Linked DNA regions of Homo sapiens: region 2 is linked to region 1. The links come from fine-mapping of genetic effects on gene expression. Tissue or cell type: whole blood. Region 1 holds a variant in brackets; the other region holds the start of a gene. All regions are shown on one strand. Distances are from middle to middle. Region 1 overlaps TATDN2 (TatD DNase domain containing 2). Region 2 holds the start of GHRL (ghrelin and obestatin prepropeptide).

Region 1 (4,385 bases):
TGTATTTTTCTTGTACAGATGGGGTCTTGCTATGTTGCCCAGACTGGTCTTGAACTCCTAGGCTCAAATGATCCTCCTGCCTTGGCCTCCCAAAGTGCTGGAATTGCAGGCATGAGCCACCACACCCAGCCTTGTTTTTTTTTTTATTGAACGCTAAACCCACAGGTCCAGAACCGTGCCTGCTGGCACAGAGTAAGTGCTTAGTAAGTGCTTGCTTAATGGTTGAAAAGTGCACTAAATTCAATATTTCTGGTTTTACTTGAAAGAAACAGAATCTCTAACTCTGATTCTCTACTCTCAAATGGCACCAGTTAGAGGTGAGGAGCAGCTGCCCGTCTGAGGGTGCAGATACTCCTCAGTTTGTTGCAGATCTCACCCTCTGTGTTGTATATGTGGCTACAGCGGGAGCAGAGGGCAGGGGTGGAGAAGCAGTCAGTGGAGATGGGGCCTTAACAGACAGGTGGGAACACAAAATGGGACGGAGGCAAGGACATGGCAAGCAGAGGAGATAAGATGTGCTAGCAAATGTGTAAGAGGGTGTGATGGGCCAAGGGTGGCAGGTGGTTGGTGGCAGGCAGAAGAGGGCACTAGAGAAGTGGGCTGGGAAGTTGGGGCTGTGTCTCACAGGGCAGGCCCTGGGAGTCATCAAATTTATTATTAGTATTAGAGGCCAGGCACGGTGGCTCATGCCTGTAATCCCAGCACTTTGGGAGGCCAAGGCGGGCAGATCACTTGAGGTTAGGCCAACATGGTGAAACCCCATCTCTACTAAAAATACCAAAAAAAAATTAGCCAGGTGTGGTGGCAGATGCCTGTAATCCCAGCTACTTGGGAGGGAGGCTAAAGCACAAGAATTGCTTGAACCTCAGAGGCGGAGGTTGCAGCGAGCTGAGGTTACACCCCGCACTCCAGCCTGGACAACAGAGTGAGATTTTGCCTCAAAAAAAAATTATATATATATATATATATGAATTCCTTAAATATAAAAAGATACAAAGAAAACAGGCTGAGCGCGGTGGCTCACACCTGTAATCCCAGCACTTTGGGAGGCCGAGGTGGGTGGATCACCAGAGGTCAGGAGTTCAAGACCAGCCTGGCCAACATGGCGAAACCCCGTCTACTAAAAATACAAAAATTAGCCAGGTGTGATTGCACATGCCTGTAATCCCAGGTACTTGGGAGGCTGAGGCAGGAGAATCTGTTGAACCTGGGGGACGGAGGTTGCAGTGAGCTGAGATCGCACCACTGTCTCCAAAAAAAAAAAAAACAAAAAAAAAAAACAAAAATGACCCGTAACCTCCTTTAACAAATAATCTCTGTAGACACGTTAGAAAATACAGAAAGTAAGAAAATTTACTAAGTCCACAGAGGTTCAAAATGATAGCAAACACCACCTTTCCTATTCATCTTCGTGAAGTTAGCAGCTGCCAACAGTTTGAGTACTTTCAGGAAAATAGATGTCTATATTAACAAGTATAGATTTCTAAAGGTTTATGATTTTTTTTTTTTTTTTTTTTTTTTTTTTTTTTTTTGGGAGATGGAGTCTTACTCTGTAGCCCAGGCTGGAGTGCAGTGGCACGATCTTGGCTCACTGCAAGCTCCGCCTCCCGGGTTCACGCCATTCTCCTGCCTCACCCTCCCGAGTAGCTGGGACTACAGGCGCCCGCCACCACGCACGGCTAATTTTTTGTATTTTTAGTAGAGACGGGGTTTCACTGTGTTAGCCAGGATGGTCTCGATGGGCCCGCCTCGGCCTCCCAAAGTGCTGGGATTACAGACATTAGCCACCGCGCCCAGCTAGGTTTATGATT[G/C]TTTTAAGTTTTATTTTCCTTTGGCCCTTGATTCAGGATAATGATTAAAAAAAAATATGATGTGCTCTTCGGAAAAAAATTTCAAATGATACAAGAAGCTTATAATATAAGCACCTAAGCCTTTGTTTGTTTGTTTGTTTGAGACAGAGTCTCATTCTCTCACCCAGGCTGGAGTGCAGTGGCATGATCTCGGCTTACTGCATCCTCCGCCTCCTGGGTTCAAGTGATTCTCCTGCCTCAGCCTCTTGAGTAGCTGGGACTATAGGCATGTGCCACCACGCCTGGCTAATTTTTGTAATTTTATTTTTATTTTGCTTCTTTTTTTTTTTTTTGAGACAGAGTTTTGCTCTTGTTGCCTGGGCTGGAGGGCAGTGGCACGATCTTGCCTCACTGCAACCTCTGCCTTCCGATTCAAGCGATTCTTTGCCTCAGCCTCCTGAGTAAGTGGGATTACAGGTGCCCGCCACCATGCCTGGCTTAAGTTTTGTATTTTCAGTAGACACAGTGTTTTGCCATGTTGGCCAGGCTGGTCTCGAACTCCTGATGTCAGGTGATCCACTTGCCTCGGCCTCCCAAAGTGCTGGGATTACAGGTGTGAGGCACTGCTCCCAGCCGAGCCTAAGTCTCTTTCTACTTCCCTGCATTCCCCAAAGAGATCCATTATAAACAGTTTAGCTTTTTAGACTTGTTTGCGAATATATACATATAAAGCAATTTTGCCTTTTTTTTTTTGAGATAGGGTCTCACTGTATTGCCTAGGCTGGAGTGCAGTGGTGCCGTCACGGCTCACTGAAACCTCTGCCTCCCAGGTTCAAGCGATTCTTGTGCCTTAGCCTCCCGTGTAGCTGGGATCACAGGCGTGTGCCACCATGGCCCAGCTAATTTTTGTAATTTTTAGTAGAGACAGAGTTTTGACACCTTGCCCAAGCTGGTCTTGAACTCCTGAGCCTAAGTGATCTTCCTGTCTTGGCCTCCCAAAGTGTTGGGATTACAGGCATGAGCCACCGCGCCCCGTGTGTTTTATAGAGATGGGGTTTCGCCATGTTGGCCAGGCTTGTCTCGACCTCCTGGGTTCAAGCAGTCCACCTGCCTCGGCTTCCCAAAGTGCTGGATTACAGGCATGAGCCACTGTACCTGGTCTGTATTTACTTTTGAGAGGAATTTAATAGAAATGACTTAGGAATGCAAATGGGATAATGGTTTACTGCTTATGGAATGGCCTTAGGAGGACATTTGTGGAGAGTTCTTACACCCGGCAGGGATTAGACTGGATTAGAATTTCACATCAAAATAGTCTGGCAAACAAAGTCTAGCTTTTTCTGTGTGGAGTCCTGGAGTGAGTGGGTGCAAGAGGGGGCTGAGGCTTCACTTCCGTCTTGGAGGAGGTTTGTTGTTGGGAGCAGTCTATCTTGACTGACCCTGGTGCAGTCACTGAGAAACTGAGGTATTTTCCAAAACCAAGTTGATTATTTGAGGGGAAGTGTTTGCAGAGAACTTTCAGGAGGCTTTGGGTATGGTGGGAAAAACACTGCACTCAGAACTGGGGGATTGGAGTTCCTGGGGCTAGCCCTTCCCCTCACTGGGTCCTCAGGTTTCCTTTACCCTTAGATATGGGATTGGGCTAGCTGGTTTCTAGGGCCCTTTCCAGTGGGAAGAGCTTGAGCTGCTGTTTTGCCTGAAGTGTAGTCCTTGCCTTCCAGGAGCTTGCAGTCTGGTTTAATGAGAGTGTTCATTTCAGCTCCTTCCGTCCCCTTGCAGTGAAAGGATATCATCTGCTGAGCATGAGAAGGCGAATGCTAAGAAATGGCAGCAATCAGCCCCTCTTACAGTGCCACTTCACCACCCGGAGAGAACCTTTGCCTTAGCCACAGTCACTTTCCCTTTGACTGGTAGAACCACCACTGATTTATAATTTGCCAAATGCTTCATGTACGAAAGTGCCCTTGGAACAGCCCTTTCAATTCTGTTTTTTTTTTCCCAGGTTGATTCCAAAGATAGTTCTCATAACTCCACAAACTCTGAATTTGCAGCTGAAGCTGAGGGTCAGAATGATACAATTGAGGAACCCAACAAGGTCCAGAAAAGGAAGAGGGATAGACTTCGAGACCAGGGCTCCACAATGATCTACCTGAAGGCTATCCAGGGCATCCTGGGGAAATCGATGCCAAAAAGGAAGGGAGAGGCTGCCACTCGGGCAAAACCAAGCGCAGCAGAGCATCCCAGCCATGGAGAAGGACCAGCCAGGAGTGAAGGACCAGCCAAGACTGCAGAAGGAGCAGCCAGGAGTGTCACAGTCACTGCTGCTCAGAAGGAGAAAGACGCAACCCCAGAGGTCAGCATGGAGGAGGATAAGACAGTGCCAGAGAGGAGCAGCTTCTATGACAGGAGAGTAGTTATAGACCCTCAAGAGAAACCCAGTGAGGAGCCCCTTGGGGACCGAAGGACTGTCATTGACAAATGCTCTCCACCCCTAGAGTTCTTGGATGACTCTGACTCTCATTTAGAAATCCAAAAGGTGAGTAAAGCTTGTACCAGGCATCTGACTTTTTAGTTCTGTTGATGAAATGTGTTCCA
Region 2 (4,385 bases), 34 kb after region 1:
GGTCCTTATATAGGATGACTGGCGTTTGTTCTAAACCAGCAACCCCATCCCAGAGGTGGCCTAGCTTCCGTGGGGCTGATGTACATTCCTTGGGAACTAAAAATGTTCTTGTCCTCTGGGTAGAAGTCAACAGTGGAGGTCAGATGCCCTGCGGAATTGCTGGGTTGGCGAGGGAAGAAGCATGTGCTCCAGCTGTCCCTGGAACACGGTGGCGGGGTGCCCCAAGTGGGCATGGCCCTGGTGGAGGAGGGAGGGAGGAGAGTGGCTCTGGGGTCTGGGTGCAGCTTTGTTGCTGTGTGACCTTAGCTTACTCGCCCTTTCTCCCTGGGTAAAATGAGGCTGTCATCACTAGGAGAGCTCTGAGACCTCCCCAGTCCAGCGCCCCGTTGTTTCCCATGTGCTGTTGCTGCTCTGGCCTCTGTGAGCCCCGGGAGTCCGCAGGGAGCCAGGCTGGTGATTCTACACCTTCCCGAGGAGGAGTCCCACCTCCCGGTTGAGCAGACTGCTCCTGATCATCCTCTCCAGAGAGTGGGTGTGGGGATAACTTCAGCCAGTGGCTATGCTTCAGTCATTTCTGCCAGGTGTGACATGACTGCCTGGCCTGGCGTTTTTTCACATAGCAGCTTGCCTTGCCTCCCTCCAGCAGCTTTGGTCCCTATTTTAGCGGATGCCTCTTCTGAGAGGGAAGTGCATTGGACCTGGAGGTGGAAGATCTACGCTTAGCACGGGCCTGGCTCCTCTCTCATTGACTGGCCTTACGCCGACCACAAATAATTCCCCTTACCCAGAGTCTTTGAGGGTGAAATGAGGCGATGGGGGGAAAGTGGCTTCTAACCTGTGAAACACCCTGCAGATGACAATGGTTTCATACCAGGCCCATAGGACTTCCCAGCATAGGCCAAGGCCACTGCCTCATTTCCCTCGGCCCCAGGAATTTCTTCCTTTCTGGAGTGCTTCATCCAACTGGGTGCCCAGGCAGGAACCCCTAAGGGCCAATGAGTTGTCTGCAGAGAAGTTCTAGCAGTTCAGGAGAGGAGCTCACCTTAGGCTGGGGCTTGCGGCAGGGATGTTAGCAAAGGCTCCAGGAAAGAGGCCTGTGGTGAACTCGGGGCAGGGCTTTGGAGGGAGGGCTTTGCGGCAAGCAGAGGGGAGGTGAAGGCGTGGGTAGAGTACATCAGGGCAGCATGGAGAAGGCTGGGTGGCTTGGGGGAGGGTGGCGATGGGGTCATAACAAAAACATAAGAAGGTGGTTTGGGGCCAGGTGATGGATGCCTTGGGAACTGCTAGCCCAAGAAGTTTGGGCTTTTTTTGCAGGAGGGCAGCCACTGAGGATTCTTGAGGAGAGAGAGACCATAGAATGAATGAAAGAGTTGGAAAGACTTTAAAGCTCTGGGAGGCTGAATCCTTTATTTCGCTGGAAGAAAAACTGAATGCCAAGAGGGCCTCACTTTCCCCAAAGCTATACAGCCATCAGGGGCAATGCTGGGATTCCCCCATGGATCTCTTGACTCCTAATACAGTGCTCTTTCTGATATGCCATCTGGCTCCATAATGAACATTGTGTTCCAGGAAAATCAGTCTGCGCTGAACAGGATGGAATTGGGGCAGGACGTCCAGTGAGGAGGACATTGAGGCAGTAGAGCAGTTGATTGCCGAATGACCACCTACCCTGACTTAAAAGATCAACCTCAGGGAGGATTGGAGCTTTCTAGAGTCTCTTGGGACAGCAGAAGCACAGGCCGGGTTGGACTGAATCTTTAAGTGGACATGAGGGACAAAGTACCTCCTGTTGGTAAACATCTCACCACCAACCCACTGTGGTGGCTAAAATCCCACCTTTAGTCCCAGCAACATATGAGCATGTCACCAGGAGGTCTTCACAGGCCTGTCTGCCACCTGAGTGTAGACATCTTTTGGCCCTGGAGCCCAGAGAGGCTGAATGTGGAGAGGGTGGAGAGAGGTCTGTAGTCCTCAGAGAAGACTTGCAGCTTTTTCAGAGCCACCAACCCATAAAAAAAAAAATCCCCAAACAGAAAAATCCTAACTGTGGTGACCAGGTACCTCCTGAGACATGAAGCCTCCACTTACCTGGACCCTGGAGGCCTCTCCGGGCACAGCTGCCAATGTTGATCTTAGATAAGACCACCAGCAAGTAAACATCCACTGTGCAAAGCTGTGTTATCTTTGGGGAACTGAAATGTCCCCTGGGAGTTGGAAACTCCCCTAGCCACATACCACAGAGTTGAGGAAGGAAGAGCTGATGGACGGAAGAACCATGGCGGGAGGAGTCATCCGGAAGCTACCTCGCTGCCCTGTCAGTTACGGAACAGAGGAGAGATGCCGGCTGGAGGACACAGCAAATTTGAACCAAGAGGAGCTTGGAGGAAGCCCGAGCGACCTGGAGGGGACTGGCTGACCTTCCTCATTCTTTTCAAGTGTGAATAATAACCAAGCCCAGTTTGGCAACTCCTTGAGGGTGAGGACGAAGCCCCATTCTCCTTTTTGGAACTTGGTGGGGCTCAGGAAGCAGGTTCTCTCCAGTCGGTGGCTTTCCTTTCTGTTGCGGGTCTCTTGAGGGCCTGCCTTCATGAAGGCACATGAGTGACTCATCATTTGTGAATTAATTGCTATATGTGAAGGGCATCTGAGAACAAATTATCTTCATAGACTTTTCATTATAATTTTATTTGTACTGATAATTAGTTGGTTTAGCAAGCTCTTTTTTCATAGATTTGGCTAAACTTCAGTCTGAAAGAGGCAAATTCTGGGGTTCTAGAAAGAGATTTTATTCTTTGATATAGGGCTATTTGGTGGGGTTGCTTTTTGTCCTAGTTGTAGCTTTTATAATTTCGAGATTCACATTTTGCAATAGAAATATACAGGCATACCTTGGAGGCATTACAGCTTTGGTCCCAGACCACAATGAAGCAAGTCACACGAATTTTGTTGGTTTCCCAGTAAATATAAAACGTATGCTGATACCATACTATAGTCTAAGTGTGCAACAGCATATGTCTAAATGAATATACATATATATTTTTTTGAGACAGGTTCTTGCTCTGTCACCCAGGCTGGAGTGCAGTGGCACTATCATGGCTCACTGCAGCCTCCACCTCCCTGGACTAAGATGATCCTCCCACCTCAGGCTCCCAAGTAGCTGGGACTACAGGTCACACCACCACACCCAGTTAATTTTTGTATTTTTTGTAGAGACAGAGTCTTGACATGTTGCCTAGGCTGGTCTTGAACTCCTGGCTTAAGTGATCTGCCTGACTTTGCCTCCCAAAGTGCTGGGATTACAGATGTGTAGTCTTTGAAATCCAGTGTGTGTTCTTACAGTGCATTTCAATTTGGACTAGCCATGTTTCAAATGCTCAGCAGCCACATGCGGCTCATTCTAGATAGGCGGCCATCGCTCTTAAATCCTCCCTGACCTTAGCCATGCTCTCTCATCCCTCCTCTTCGCCAAGCTCTGCCTCTCTCACTGGGGCTTCCCTAGCCTCCGGCCATCTTGGGGCCAAAGCTCTAACACTTTGCCTCTCTCGTGTCTTCTGTTCCCCTCCAGTGGCTTCTGCTTTCTGCCTTAAAATACACCCAGGTTCCTAATCCTGAAAACGTCTGTTGTGCACCGATCCCACCCTCCCCTCGTGTTACCATCTCCATTTCCTTCCCCTTTCCTTGTGTCCTCTTCTTTGCTGTGTCCTGGCCCCTCAAAACTTGACCTTGCCTCTCATCCCCACTGCTGTACTGAAACTGTTGTCTCAGCGTTGCTGATCATCCAGCCTTTTAGTCTATGGACCGCTAAGAGCCATAGGACGACCTCAGGGTGGGACGTGGCTTGGAGGGCCATCTCGTCTCAATTTCCAGATACAGACCTGTGTTGGGTTGTGTTGGATTCATGAGGAAAGCTTCATAAGTTTTATGCACGTTTATAAGACTCCATCCTTGGATTCTGATCCAGTAGCTCTGGCGTGGGGGCTTTAGAATCTGTTTCAAGTATCTCAGGTAATTTTGATTATAAATTACCAAGTATCCCAGGTAAATTTTGATTATAAATGCTTGCTTCCAGCAGAAAATATAAACATATGGAAGATGAAATCTTTCTCTCTGAATAACCCAATTCAGTTTCCACTCGTGAATATCTTATATAACCGTAGTACATTTATCAAAATTAAAACACCAGTGTTAGCACATTACTGTTAATCTCCAGACTATTTGTAAGTCACCAATTTTTCCATTGTCCCATCTGTTCTTCCTTTTCTTTCTCTTGTCATAACCACTTTTAGAGGGTTTTGAATGGTATCATTTTGTCTTCACCGTCGGCTTATTAGCTATACTGTACTGTTCTATTCTTTGAGTGGTTGCTCTAGGATTTACAAATATGA

Evidence for each region. PIP is the estimated chance that this variant, and not a neighbour inherited with it, causes the effect. A credible set is the group of variants that fine-mapping cannot tell apart.
Region 2: it holds the start of GHRL, and the variant in region 1 is the best candidate, but not a certain one, in a credible set for the expression of GHRL in whole blood (TOPMed, PIP 0.67).

What each region holds. Positions count from the first base shown.
Region 1 is chr3:10,256,345-10,260,729 of GRCh38, forward strand. TATDN2 (TatD DNase domain containing 2) reads left to right here. Exons shown (of 8, transcript NM_014760.4): 3 at 3,793-4,326. Among named protein-coding and RNA genes, the nearest start is that of TATDN2, 10 kb to the left of the region's middle. The variant G/C (reference allele first, on the strand shown) is at 1,812.
Region 2 is chr3:10,290,754-10,295,138 of GRCh38, forward strand. It overlaps GHRL (ghrelin and obestatin prepropeptide), which reads right to left and starts at 2,194. Exons shown (of 6, transcript NM_016362.5): 1 at 2,089-2,194; 2 at 1-698. It overlaps GHRLOS (ghrelin opposite strand/antisense RNA), which reads left to right. Exons shown (of 6, transcript NR_073568.1): 6 at 1,315-2,696. RefSeq lists enhancers at 1-440, 1,952-2,021, 2,032-2,281, 2,092-2,386.